Homo sapiens: one gene and its partners. The protein of the gene in region 3 purifies or fractionates together with the protein of the main gene of each other region. This does not show direct contact. Each region holds a gene or a part of one and is shown on either strand. Other genes may lie near its edges.

Region 1 (3,500 bases), on a different chromosome or scaffold from region 3:
CATCCGGAGTATTTTTATTTTCAATTTAATTCTTTTCAATCTGGAAATTACCTCATTCATTGTAGTTTTAATGGCACTCAAAATATTTTAAACAATAAAGTTTATATTCTTGCCTTATTTCTTTACATATTCATTGGCACAACTCTGAAAAAACTAAGTCATAAAAATAGAAAGTTGCTGATTACATGGTGATTACAGCAGCTGGGTAACCATGTACTAATGCTACATAAGGCAGCAGTTAATTGAGAGACTAAAGTTACTTAGAGTACAAATGGAAGTTTAAAATGTGAAATCTGTTGGTTTTAGATCAAAGAGATTTTTCCTTCACTAATCATACTTCCAATTATTTTGATTTCTGATATGAGATATATTTAAGACTTCATAAGAAAAAAGTACAATGTGTATAATTTTGTCAAATCGTGGTAATTAATCAATGGAAGTTAGATTAGCAAATTCACTTCTTTAGTTAAAAAAACACACACACACACACACACACACACAACAAATCAAGGCTTGAGCCTACTTGCCCTCTCTTTAATTTTATGCAACCCTTTATTTTGAGGCTTTAAAATTTAGAACCTGTTTTTAGACATAAAAGTTTTGTTATTTTAAATATGTTTTAATCAACTTGTGACTTCAATAAACTTATTTAAAGAAAAACTTTTCTATTTATAAAGGTAATACATGTTGCTTCAAAAAATATTTCAGAAAATACTCAATAGTATAAATAATATGAAAGCACCCATAATTTCATCACTCAGAGTACATTATGGTTAAGATGTTTGTGTATGGCCTTCCAAACCTTTAAAAAAATGAACATATATATATATGTATGTGTGTGTGTATGTTTCTAATAAGAAAAATCAAAATATTACACATATACAGACAACATATGTTGTTTAATTTTGGAATTCTCAGTTTACCTTTTTTCCATATAATAATGTTATTCATGTCAAAACAGATCACATCTTCATTTTTAACATACGCTAAGTATGCTGATATAAGGACACAATGTAATCCCCTATCAGAGGGCATGCAAGTATTAACTTTTAAGAGTGGTAGGTTCATGAAAAAGAAAGTGGATGTTTAAATCTTATGTTCAAATAGGTTTCTTCTCTTACAAAGCTAGCACACAGGCCGGGCACGGTGGCTCACGCCTGTAACCCAGCACTTTGGGAGGCCAAGGTGGGCGGATCACCTGAGGTTGGGAGTTCGAGACCAGCCTGACCAACATGGAGAAACCCCGTCTCTACTAAAAATACTAAAACTAGCCAGACGTGGTGGCACATGCCTGTAATCCCAGCTACTACGGAGGCTGAGGCAGGAGAATCACTTGAACCCAGGAGGCAGAAGTTGCGGTGAGCCGAGATCACGCCATTGCACTCCAGCCTGGGCAACAAGAGTGAAACTCTGTCTCAAAAAAAAAAAAAAAAAAAAAAAAAAAAAAAAAAAAAAAAAAAAAAAAAAAAAAAAAAAAGCTCGCACACAGATCTAGACTAAGACTAAGAGGTTGCCTTATTGTTGGTTTATGAGATAAAATTAGTTTTAAAATTAACTAGTTCGTTTTATTATTTATCATTATCTGATAATATATGACTTTTATAATTTCAATGAAATAATCACAAATTATGATAATTGGTTTAAATAAACACATACCCATATATAAACTGGCAGTAATTTCTAGAGTGATAAAGAGTTGATGAAAAGTTCCTAACAATTTCATATACATACTCAAAGTAGTCATGTGCTAAATAAAAGCATACATTTAGATTAGCTGAGTAAAAAGTACTAAATGTATATTTTAAGCATATTATACTTCAGAATCACATTTTCAACCGAGATAAAGTTGTGAAGCTGGAAACATAATGCTTCTAACATTCTGAGGTACCATGTCATTGAAAAATTGTCCTTGCTGTTTTGAATCTGCTTTTGGAAGGCAATGGGTATAAAAATAAAGGATTATCAGAAAGTTACTTCCATTAGGAACACTAAACACTTAGCATGTACAACCAGCAAGTTTGAAAATCAATTAAGTCATCAGGCAAATGCAAATTAAAACCAAAATGAACTACTACTTAACAACCACTAAAATGGGTATACTAAAAAAGACAGTAACAATGGTTGGTGAGGATACTAAGAAACGGGAAGCCTCACATATTTCTGATGATAAAGTAAAATGGTACAATTTTGAAAAACAGCTTGGTAATTTCTTAAAAACATAAATATAAACTTACCATACAACCCAGTGGTTCCACTCCTAGGAATCTACTCAAGAGAAATAAAAACATATGTCTACACAAAAATTTGTATGTGAATGTTCACAGCAGCATTATTCATAATAGGCAAACATGGGAAACAACCCAAATGTCCATCAACTGATGAATGGAAACAATATGTGGCATATCCTTAAAATGGAATATTATTCAACAATAAAAAGGAACAAAATACTGATATATCCTGCAATACGAAGAACTTCAAAAATGTTACACAAAGAGCTAGAAACAAAAGATTACATACTATAATTCTATTAACATAAAATGTCCAGAAAAAGTAGCAAGATTAACTTTCTAACAATCACCACCACTATCATCATTTATTGAGTATCAATATATTCCAGTATTTTGTATCTTAAAAGCTTACTGGCAAACGTCAACATCAGTGACTATCATCTTAACTTATACATCGACATTTTACTTGATATAGTTTTAACCAAAAAAAAAAAAGTTATAAGTTCACTAGGACTTATCTAGTTTATACACAGGTTAAATGCTTTAAAAAATATCTCTCTGGCTCCCTGACTTTGGTACATTTTAATTCTCAGTATCTCCACTCAAAATGGGCAAGGTAGAAGAAAACTGTCAAATTCTGTAGTATAGCAACTAATGATGAAAGCATAATTAACAAAATACTTTAAAGAAATACATATATTCCAGTGATCCACGAATAACCAAGAGTTGTCTATGAAAAACAAGATTCATTCTAATTTCTCTCAACTTCAACACAGAAGATATTTTGTGTGAAGGACTAGAGTAGTAAGAATTGATATACACTAGCCTACTAATAGCATACACCTTTGAGAAAATTTATTTTCTTCTACACTAGAATGTGTTTTGCCAACAGAATGACATTCTGTTTTTAGTGTAGTGTTTAGAGGCTTTCTGGTGACGGACAGGATTTTAAAGACCTGGAACTATATCTGAATTGTAAGATTAAGAACTTAAAAAAAGGGCTGGGTGTGGTGGTGCACATCTGTAATCCAGCACTTTGGGAGGCCAAGGCAGGTGGATCACTTGAGGTCAGGAGTTTTGAGACCAGCCTGGCACACATGGAGAAACCCCGTCTCTACTAAAAACACAAAAAATTAGCCAAGTGTGGTGGCAGGTGCCTATAATCCCAGCTACTCGGGAGGCGCAGGCTATAGAATCTCTTGAACCCAGGAGGTGGGGGTTGCAGTGAGCCAAGATCGTGCCATTGCATTCTAGCCTGGGCAACAAGAGTGA
Region 2 (3,500 bases), on a different chromosome or scaffold from region 3:
GATGGTAGGAACAAGGTATCTTACTGTTGGAGTGGGAATTTACAAATTAGCACAGGGAGGAGGCTAGGACGATCTATGTGGTAATGGATTACAGCTAAAGACATCAATAAGAACACTAGCCAGGCACAGTGGGGCATGCCTGTATCCCCAGCTACTTGGAAGGCTGACGCAAGAGGACTGCTTGAGCCAAGGAGTTCGAGGCTCTAGTGCACTATCATCACACCTGTGAGTAGCCACTGCACTCCAGCCTGAATAACACAGCAAGAACCCATCTTAAAAAAAAAAGAAAAAGAAAAAGAAAGCTCATTTAACTTAATATATGTAGATACAGATGGCTATGCAAATAAAAATTTATAGATATGTAATATATACACGAGTAAGCACACACAGGTAACAATTCTTTATTTTTTTAATTTTTTTTTGAGACAGAGTCTCGCCCTGTCACCCAGGCTGGAATGCAATGGTGCAATCTCGGCTCACTGCAACCTCCGCCTCCCAGGTTCAAACGATTCTCCTACCTCGGCCTCCCAAGTAGCTGGGATCACAGGCTCCCGCCACCATGCCCAGCTAATTTTTGTACTTTAGTAGATACGGGGTTTCACCATGTTAGCCAGGCTGGTCTCGAACTCCTGACCTTGTGATCCACCCACCTCTGCCTCACAAAGTGCCGGGATTATAGGTGTGAGCCACTGCGCCTGGCTTACAGTTATTTATTCTGTCAAGTGAGAGGGCCTAAAAGAAACACTCCAGTAGCAACAAGCTTACATAAGGCCTAGAACTTGGTTTTAATATCATTCTCCAATAAAAGGAAGCAGAGCTCCTTGGAGAAACAGCTGATTCTAGTACTGGAGCAAGAAATAAACAAGATGAGCCTGGAGCATCTTTTGGTGCCAGAAAGGAAAGAAGTGCTTTAAAGTGCAGGCACATATACACAAAAACACAATGGGATACTGCCAATGGACACAAAGCCAGCTGAAAGAATTCCCAATGGCCAAAGTTGGAACAATTTGAGCAACAAAATATAGTAGCATTAGATTATAACGAAGTATAAACTATCCATAAGTTTATACTAATGTAAATAACTGAATAAATAAATAAATTGGGGAAAAGAGACAAATCCCCAATATGGAAAAATCCCAAATAAAATATGTAGATATTCCACCCTAATGTAGACAGAGTATAACTCTCCAGTCTGTAAGAGTGAAATGCACATAGTGACTTTCTTCCAAAAAGTGCATGGAAAGGGGGAAAATGAAAAGAATAACTTTACAGGAGAAACCTAACGAACAAACACTACTTCAGCCAGGTAATCAAGGTCCACATCAACAGTCATAAATCATAAAGATAGTATGTACCCCTGATATGATGGGATACAAATGGCACTTTACCTCTGTGATCTTCCTCCCAAACCCTTTATAAGTCCGGTCTAATCACAAGAAAAACAAATTCCAACAGAGGGGCAATCTACAATACACCTGACCAGCACTCCTCAAAGCTGTCAAGGTCATCAAAAACTAGGGAAGCCTGAAAAACTGTCACAGCCAAGAACAGCCTAATGAGACATGGCAAGTATATGTAATGTGGTATTTTGGAATGGAAAAAGAACATTAGGTAAAAACTAAGGGACCGGGCACGGAGGCCTCACGCCTGTAATCCCAGCAGTTTGGGAGGCCAAGGTGGGTGGATCACAAGGTCAGGAGCTCGAGACCAACCTGGACAACATGGTGAAACCCCGTCTCTACTGAAAATACAAAAATCAGCCGGGCGTGGTGGCAGGCACCTGTAATCCCAGCTACTCAGGAGGCTGTGGCAAGAGAATAGCTTGAACCTGGGAGGCGGAGGTTGCAGTGAGCTGAGATCGCGCCATAGCACTCCAGCCTGGGACAGAGCGAGACTCTGTCTCAAAAAACAAAACAAAACAAAACAAAACAAGGGAATCAGAAAAAAACTATGGTCTTTAGTTAATAAAACTGTATCAATATTGCTTCATTAAATATAGCAAATTTACCCTTCGAAGGTAAGATATTAATAGGGAAAACTGCATACAGGGGCTGGGGACAGGGAAGGAGTCATTAAGGTGTCCACATCCCCTGACAACTCAAGGCTTAAAACAGTGGCACAAGGCTGGGTGTACTGGCTTATGCTTGTAATCCCAGCACTTTGGGAGGCTGAGGCAGGCAGATAGCTTGAGCTCAGGAGTTTGAGACCAGCCTAGGCAACATGGCAAAACCCCGTATCTACCAAAAAAAATACAAAAATTAGCCAGGCATGGTGGCGTGAGCCTGTAGTGAGGGCTGAGGTGGGAGAATTGCTTGAGCCCAGGAGGCTGAGGCTGCAGTGAGCAAGATCACACTACAACCTGGGTGACAGAGCAAGACCCTGTTTAAAAACAAAAAACAGTGACACAAAAGCAAATCTATTTTCCTAATGTAACTAGTTAGCATCATTAAAAAAAAAAAAAACACTGCAAGTTGGAAAACATTGGGTTTCTTTATTGCAGAATATCAGAACTTATGATATGCTGATGTATACCCAGTCTGTCTGTCCTTCCCATTTCTTGATTTGGTTTAGTTGTTGTCTCCACTTTGACCAGAAACAATTTTCTTCACACTTATAAAACAAAGCCGGCTGGGTGCAGTGGCTCATGCCTATAATCCCAACACTTCCAGGAGGCAGAGGCGGGTGGATCACCTGAGGTCAGGAGTTCGAGACCAGCCTGACCAATATGGTGAAAACCCATCTCTACTAAAAATACAAAAATCAGGCCAGGCGCGGTGACTTGCACTTGTAATCCCAGCACTTTGGGAGGCCGAAGTGGGCAGATCACAAGGTCAGGAGTTCGAGACCAGCCTGGCCAACACAGTGAAACCCCATCTCTACTAAAAATACAAAAAAAAAAATTAGCCAGGTGTGGTGGCACACGCCTGTAGTCCCAGCCACTCGGGCAGCTGAGGTGGGAGAACCGCTTGAACGCAGGAGGCAGAGGTTGCAATGAGCTGAGACCATGCCATTGCACTCCAGCCTGGGTGACAGAGTGAGACTCCATCTCAAAAAAATAAAAATAAAAACAAAAATTAGCCAGGCATGGTGGCATGCGCCTGTAATCCCAGCTACTTGGGAGACTGAGGCAGGAGACTTGCTTGAACCCAGAGGCGGAGGTTGCAGTGAGCCAAGATCATGCCACTGCACTGCAGCCTGGGTGACAGAGTGAGACTGCGTCTCAAAAACAACAAAAACCCACACAAAAATAGAGCCATTTCCCCAGGTCTGCACAAAAGAGAACATCTACACCTAGAAAAGAAACATTTAAGAACCAAGAGATCAAACAAGCACCCACTGAGTAATGCAGAGCAGCAACAATCCATCGAAAGCCACCTCACCTGGTTTCCAGAAAGAGGTGAAGTGAAGTGGTGACTATGGAGGTTTCGGCCAGTGTTGACATGTGTCAGCCGGATGGGCTGGCCACACTTGATGGGGGTTCCCCTCTCACACACTGTGGC
Region 3 (3,500 bases):
CTCAAAAATTGGTACTCATAATACACGAATGGCACTAACACAAGGCAGAATGAGATAAATATTATAACAGAGGTACAAAGTTATTTAACAACACAAAGGAAGGAGAGATAAATTTTTATTAGAAGCTCATGGGGCCTAGCACGGTGGCTCATGCCTGTAATCCCAGCACTTTGGGAGGCCGAGGCAGGTGGATCACCTGAGGTCAGGAGTTTGAGACCAGCCTAGCCAACGTGGTGAAACCCCATCTCTACTAAGAATACAAATATTAGCTGGGCATGGTGGCTGGTGCCTGTAATCCCAGCTACTCGGGAGACTGAGGCAGGAGAACTGCTTGAACCCAGGAGGCGGAGGTTGCAGTGAGCCGAGACCACGTCATTGCACTCTAGCCTGGGCAACAGAGAGAGATACTGTCTCAAAATAAAAATTAACAAAAAAGTTCATGGAAGAGGTGATAATGGAACTGCTATTTGAAGAACAAGTAGAAACTGTTACAGGCAGAGACTACGCAGTGCGTCTTCATAATTTTCTCCCTGTAAGTAAAGTGTGCTTCCATAATTTGTAAACTCATTTTGAGTTTATATGTTTCATTTTAGGGAGGTGAGGAGTGAAGCTATATTTCTAACATGTGTGTTAACATCTCTAAAGGCAACACATGTATGCAACTCTTGTAGGTGCAACTATGTCACATGGAGTATTTTCATCTTCATAGCTATAAGTACACTATACTTGTTTTGTTTTGGTTTTTTTGTAATAAAAATCCAGGAACAGAGATACATTTTTTTGTAAGTGGAATTACGATAAACTGAAAAATATTTATATACTCTGCTTTTAGAAGTGGTTGAATTACCACTTCAACAAGCATAATATTGTAAGTTAATATATTTGAAGTGTGACTAGTGGTATGTTGATAGGTATACATCATCCACAAAATGTTAGAAGTATGTATATGGAAAAAAACACAGCTTATCTTGATGTAAATTTGTCTGTGTATCAGAAGTAAAATTAAATTCCACTTTTAAAAATCTGCTTGTGTACCTGACTCATTAAGAGATTAAGTATTCACTCTAATTGAATTAAAAAATACTTGAAAATGAAAATTCTCTCTCTTACAGCCCCTTATCCACCTCAAAATATTTCCGTTCGTATCGTAAACTTGAACAAAAACAACTGGGAAGAACAGAGTGGCAATTTCCCAGAAGAATCCTTCATGAGATCACAAGATACAATAGGAAAAGAAAAACTCTTCCATTTTACAGAAGAAACCCCTGAAATTCCCTCGGGCAACATTTCTTCCGGTTGGCCTGATTTTAATAGCAGTGACTATGAAACTACGTCTCAGCCATATTGGTGGGACAGTGCATCTGCAGCTCCTGAAAGTGAAGATGAATTTGTCAGCGTACTTCCCATGGAATACGAAAATAACAGTACACTCAGTGAGACAGAGAAGTCAACATCAGGCTCTTTCTCCTTTTTCCCTGTGCAAATGATATTGACCTGGTTACCACCCAAACCACCCACTGCTTTTGATGGGTTCCATATCCATATTGAACGAGAAGGTAAAGCAGTAGGAAATCAGAGGAAATAAGAACTGATACAAAGGAAGGGGAATTGAAATGTTTTTAAATTTGAGTTTAGAAAGACTGATCATAGACAGTTATTAGTCAAAGAATAATGGTAATGAAAGGGGAGAATTTAATTGAGTATCCAATGCAGACTGAGAGCAGAAAACCCAAATGAATAGACTGGATAAGAATCAGAAGGTTTGGGTGATTCACAAGTTGTAAGTACTGCCAACTGTATACATTTGACTGCCCACTATTTCTCATGTCTCAGAACAATGAGGAAAACATCATATTTGGAAATATTTTGAATTAAAGATCTAACTATCCCAGAATGTTACAACATAACCTAGAGAAATTTTCTGTTTTCTCATATGCAAATTTTTAAACATGGCAGCAAAGTAATACTTATGAAAACATTACTACTTCCTCAAGAATATGAGGCATGTGTCCTGCTAACCAGCCGCTCTTGTTCCCTTTAGGGTGCGCCCCTCTAGAAAAAGCACCACAGTTTTCCAAAGAGAAGCTGATAGTAAAATGGAAAATACACAGCTGCTGACATTTCCATATAGCTACTATATTATATTTTGCATTGACTAACTCAGCATCTGAGGTTCATTCTTTATATTTTAGCCACTAACTTAGGAAAGTAGAGCCATGACTTTCAACAAGTTTGGGTCATGATACCTATCTCAATTGTTGTTTGGTAGATTTTTATGGTTATTTGTTGTTTGTTTAGTTTTTACAGTAATATACTTCATTTTCCATTTTCTGATCTAGTAGTTTGAGTGGCAGAGGTTATAATTTGTAAAAATTTGAAGTTACAGTGATAGCCTTATTTTTAGGGTGAGAGTTTAAGGCCCATGTAGTCTCATATACTGACATATTGTTTACTCCTATTTTACTTAATAGCATGAGATACAAAATCTGTGGATTCTTCTATACAAGATGATACAGCATTCAACCATACCCAAATATTACATAAAATGAAAATTCTTAATTATTTGAGTCAAAAGTCATTTTCCTGGAATTTCCTATTTTTTTTAAAGTTTCCTTAATCTATCATTTATTTTTCTGTTCCTAAATATGTTCCTACGGCAAATAGGATCTTGTCATTACAAAAATTTTTTACTGCCTCTTCTCATGAAGGTTCTATTATGCATTTATCTGACTCAGTGTCTTCTTTTGAAGGCTGTTGTAGTCACCAACTGATGATAATGACTTCAAATGAAGTAATAAGCAGCAGAGGATGGATGGACTGTGAAGCAATGTGAAATAATTCTTTCTTTAAGAAGATCTGAAAGCAAATGGATAAAGGAAAAATATTACCATGATTATTATTTTTTTAATTTTACTTTAAGTTCAGGGGTACATCAGAAAATATACCTTAAAAATTAGATGTATTTTAAATAAATGTTAAAGCACTTCTGGATGGTTAATACTACCACAAAGAACTTACAAGATATTTGATCCTGGTTATTTTTTAGCCCTTACCTCGTGATGAGAAAGCCAACAATTGTTAACTTTTCCTGATTATCTACTTCTATTTTGTACACATAATTTTGTTGGGTAGGAGTACATAAAGATACACAGTGTAGACCCATCCCTAGTTTTATTGATTTGAATGCCGTATTTGAGTTTTGTTATTTGGAAGACTGTAAAAATACTGAACTCTTATTTATTATTCTTTAATGGTACCTTTAGTTTAGAGGTGTAATTGAACTTGACAAAAGGAGGGAACATTTAAAACACCTAATTTTTTTTCATTAATCGACTTGTCTATACCCAGGGCCTTTCCAGGTGTCTATTCATGTATCTTCTCTTTTTTATATATGATTTAGAGAACTTTACTGAATATTTGATGGTGGATGAAGAAGCACATGAATTTGTTGCAGAACTGAAGGAACCTGGGAAATATAAGTTATCTGTGACAACCTTTAG
Region 4 (3,500 bases), on a different chromosome or scaffold from region 3:
AGATCTCTCAGCCCCCTTGGGGAAGCAGCATTTGATGTTTGTGTGAATCTCTCAGCGTGGTCGTCTTCTCTTCCTGGACCCTCCTGTCATGGGTGAGCGTTCCTTAGGCACATGATGGCAGAGACAGCCCTAATTAGCTCATGCTTTGATGAAACAGCTGCCTGTCTCAAGTCGTGGGGGGCAGGGGAGCAGCTCAGCTCCCAGGCCCCCCTGCGCCAGCGCCTGCCTGCCTATCTGGAGAGGAGCTGTCAGCCTCCCTTCCCCAGGGACTCTGGCCCATCTCCAGGCTGCTCTGCAGACACAGGGGTGGAGTTGCTGTGGGACGGGCTGGCACCCACCCTGTACTTCCTTTCTGGCTGAGAGGCTACAGAGTGACACGTGGTACAAAGGAGCTTTTCTCTTTAGAAAGCTGGCTCAGCGTGCTCGGTCTGCTCTGGACCTTGAAGCTTGTTCCTGGTCAGAATAGAAGTGGGGAGCTATCTTCATTCCATTCAGCCAGCTTTGGGGGCACGCCTGCTGTGTGTCGGGCCCTCTCCTGTACGGTGGCACAGTGTGTCTTTTCTGGGTTTAGGACCAGGAGCCAGCTCCTTCTGATTTGTCTTTGTTTCCTTATACCCTGGCTCACTCTCAAGGACACCGTGAGGGCCCCCTGGCCAGGAGGGTTGGGAGTTAGGAGGAACAGGTGCTTTTTGGGTCTCTGGGAGCTTGTGGTCATGCCAAGGGCAGGCAGCCAGAGGCATGCGGTGGCTTTGGTAGACTGCGGTGTCCTTTGTGGGCTAGTTGGATGGGTGTGACAGCCACCATCTGACTGCTGGCTTGGCCCCTTCACTTGTTGTTGGCCTCAGGCTTTTGTGTGCCTGTCCCCTCTTTTCTCTGGGGCCTCACATGTGGGCTGCTGAGAGGGGAGCCCTGACCTGCCCAAGGGCCTGACTATCTGGTCCCTGTGCTTGACACTTGCTCCTTAATTGATCCCTAATGCAATCTTGAAAAGCAAGGAGCCTGCAAAAGGGCATCCTGTGAGGGATCCCGGCCTTGTCCCCTGCATGGCACCCTGCCCTGATGGGGGTCCCCGCCAGGCCCCTCATCCCTTCATCTGGGAGGTCTGGGCCTGAAATGTTTTAATCACATCACTATTTCTCTAGCCCAGAATGGGGAGAGGAGTTCCAGAGGCAGCTCAGGGTTTTGAGTACTTTAGTGCAGTATGTTTATCTATTGATATGTTCATGGTTGTGTACACGTGTTGTTCATTCGTTCGTTCGTTCAGTCGTTCATTCATTCCCTACTGTCCAGGGACCTGTGACGTGGCAGGCTCTGTGCTGAGTGCTGAGAATACAGGGCAGAGAAGCTGACAGTAGCTGCTGTTATAGAGTGGGAGCCCAGTGGGAGGCATTGGGTTGTCCTGTTTTAGGATCTGCCTGGGTATTCAGAGGCTCCTGTCTCTTGCACTTTCTTCCTGCCTTCTCCCGCAAGCATTTTCTATGTGCAGTCTGAGTGCCGACCCAGGAGAGGAGAGGGATGGGGCCCTGGCCTTGGGGCACCAGACCCAGAGGGGAACAGACCCATTAGTAATTGCCCCAGTGTGTGATGTGCTTGGGTCATGGAGGAAGGAACATCCGGCACTGGCTTGGGAAGCGCCAAGAAAGGCTTCCTACGGGAGGGACGCTGAAGGAGCACCTTCGGCATCGAAATGTCTTTACAGTAGTAGAGGTTGTTCACCTTCCCAGCCCACTCCAGCCCCTTGGCTGCTGGGGAGTGGGGGCTGGCATGGGAGCACTCAGCCCTGTCACCTGTGCTGTGGGCCGCTGTTCCCACGTGGGTCTGTGCCAGATGGTCTTTGTTTCCCCAGCTGAGTTTGACTTGCCCCGTGTGGGAACCTCTGTTGTTCTTGTTTCTCCCCAGGGATGGCTGACATGGGCTCAGTTCCCTGACCATCCGATCCCTGGGCTGGGCAGGGTAGTCATGCTGTCCTGTGCTTCTTCCCCAGCAACCCCAAGGTCCAGGTGGAGGCCATCGAAGGGGGAGCCCTGCAGAAGCTGCTGGTCATCCTGGCCACGGAGCAGCCGCTCACTGCAAAGAAGAAGGTGTGTTTCCATGCCCTTCCTCCTGCCCAGCCTCCAGGACACGTGTGGGGCCTGAAAGGAAAGGGTTCCTGTCCAGGCTGTGCATGTTACCATGGGGGCCTGAGCATCATCTGCTGGGTGGCACAGGGGGAGAAGTTACACTCAACTAAAGCAGATGGCAGTGTGCCGAGGTGACTAGAGGCCTGGGGGCAGCTCCTGTGCTGTGGCCTTGGGCCCTACTCCTGGCCTCCCACCCTTGGCCTCTGTTTACCTCCCATTTACTCACTTGGTAATGTTGAAGGTGTCTGAGTCCCTCCTGGCCTCACAGTCCTGGGTTCTGGGGTATAGCTGTAACTGAGGTGGGGCCGGGAGGAATGGGGACTAATTTGGGGCACCTCTGCCTGCCTTCCCTGGGCCTCAGGGCAGGTCCAGCTCGCTTGGCCCCTCACCTACCCCTGGGTCTGTGCCCCCAGGTCCTGTTTGCACTGTGCTCCCTGCTGCGCCACTTCCCCTATGCCCAGCGGCAGTTCCTGAAGCTCGGGGGGCTGCAGGTCCTGAGGACCCTGGTGCAGGAGAAGGGCACGGAGGTGCTCGCCGTGCGCGTGGTCACACTGCTCTACGACCTGGTCACGGAGAAGGTGAGTGCCCAGGCCCACCCAGTCTCCTCTTGTTTGCTTTGTGTGTGCTTCTGGGTGGATGGACAGACAGATGGAAGAGACTGCGGACGTCACTTGTTTGCTTTGTGTGTGCTTCTGGATGGATGGACAGACAGACAGTTGGAAGAGATTGGGGACGTCAGGGAGTATGTCATGTGAGATGTGGTGGCTAAGCTGAAACCTGAGGGCTGATGAGGAGTGGGAGGTGGCCCTGCCAGCCATGGTCACGGCCAAGTGTGCAGGCAGAGGGCTCAGTATGAGGCAAGCCTTGGAGCAGCCGAGACCAGGCCCCGAGGGGACAAAAGGCTGAGGGGGTAGAACAGCCCAGAGCTCCTTCGAATGGCACTCACTCTTCGGATTCTAGAAACGTGGAGGTGCCTCCTCTGTGAGCTTTGGCTCTGGGCAGGGCCTCAGAGTGGCTGCCCTTGAGAGTCTCAGGGACCCAATTGCTTGCCACTTGGGAGGAGACTTGGTGCCCAGCCCTGTTTGCAAGCTTGAAGAAGCATCTTAATTAAGGAGGAGAGAGGAAAACCAGCCAGGCCTGGATTCTTAATTCAGCTACTGCAGAGAGCATTGGCAGGGCTTCCTCAGTTGCCTCTCTCGGGCCACACGCTCCCCAGAAGAGCCGCATGCCGACTAGTGGAGCAGGGCTGGGCAGCCGCTGGAACTGCTGCCGAATGGTGGAGGCTGGGCCCCTCACTCCCTCTGCACACGCCTCCCCCAGGCCTTCTCTCCCAGGCAGTGTCGGGATGGCTGTGGCCACCTCTGTCCATCACTGTCTCTC

Evidence for each region. Proteins that work in one complex are often made in the same cells at the same time.
Region 1: the proteins of PTPRO (region 3) and NGLY1 purify together in Homo sapiens (affinity purification with mass spectrometry, with the first as the bait; 2 studies listed by BioGRID). This does not show direct contact.
Region 2: the proteins of PTPRO (region 3) and SDF2 purify together in Homo sapiens (affinity purification with mass spectrometry, with the first as the bait; 2 studies listed by BioGRID). This does not show direct contact.
Region 4: the proteins of PTPRO (region 3) and SIL1 purify together in Homo sapiens (affinity purification with mass spectrometry, with the first as the bait; 2 studies listed by BioGRID). This does not show direct contact.

Annotation. Positions count from the first base shown.
Region 1 is NC_000003.12:25,759,444-25,762,943, forward strand, and holds part of NGLY1 (peptide-N(4)-(N-acetyl-beta-glucosaminyl)asparagine amidase), read right to left. Parts: intron 1-3,500. UniProt on the Homo sapiens protein: Specifically deglycosylates the denatured form of N-linked glycoproteins in the cytoplasm and assists their proteasome-mediated degradation. Cleaves the beta-aspartyl-glucosamine (GlcNAc) of the glycan and the amide side chain of Asn, converting Asn to Asp.
Region 2 is NC_000017.11:28,651,907-28,655,406, forward strand, and holds part of SDF2 (stromal cell-derived factor 2 precursor), read right to left. Parts: coding exon 3,381-3,500; intron 1-3,380.
Region 3 is NC_000012.12:15,500,508-15,504,007, forward strand, and holds part of PTPRO (receptor-type tyrosine-protein phosphatase O isoform a precursor), read left to right. Parts: intron 1-1,112; coding exon 1,113-1,556; intron 1,557-3,400; coding exon 3,401-3,500.
Region 4 is NC_000005.10:138,950,369-138,953,868, reverse strand, and holds part of SIL1 (nucleotide exchange factor SIL1 precursor), read left to right. Parts: exon of another isoform or gene 1-1,984; coding exon 1,985-2,081; intron 2,082-2,533; coding exon 2,534-2,698; intron 2,699-3,500.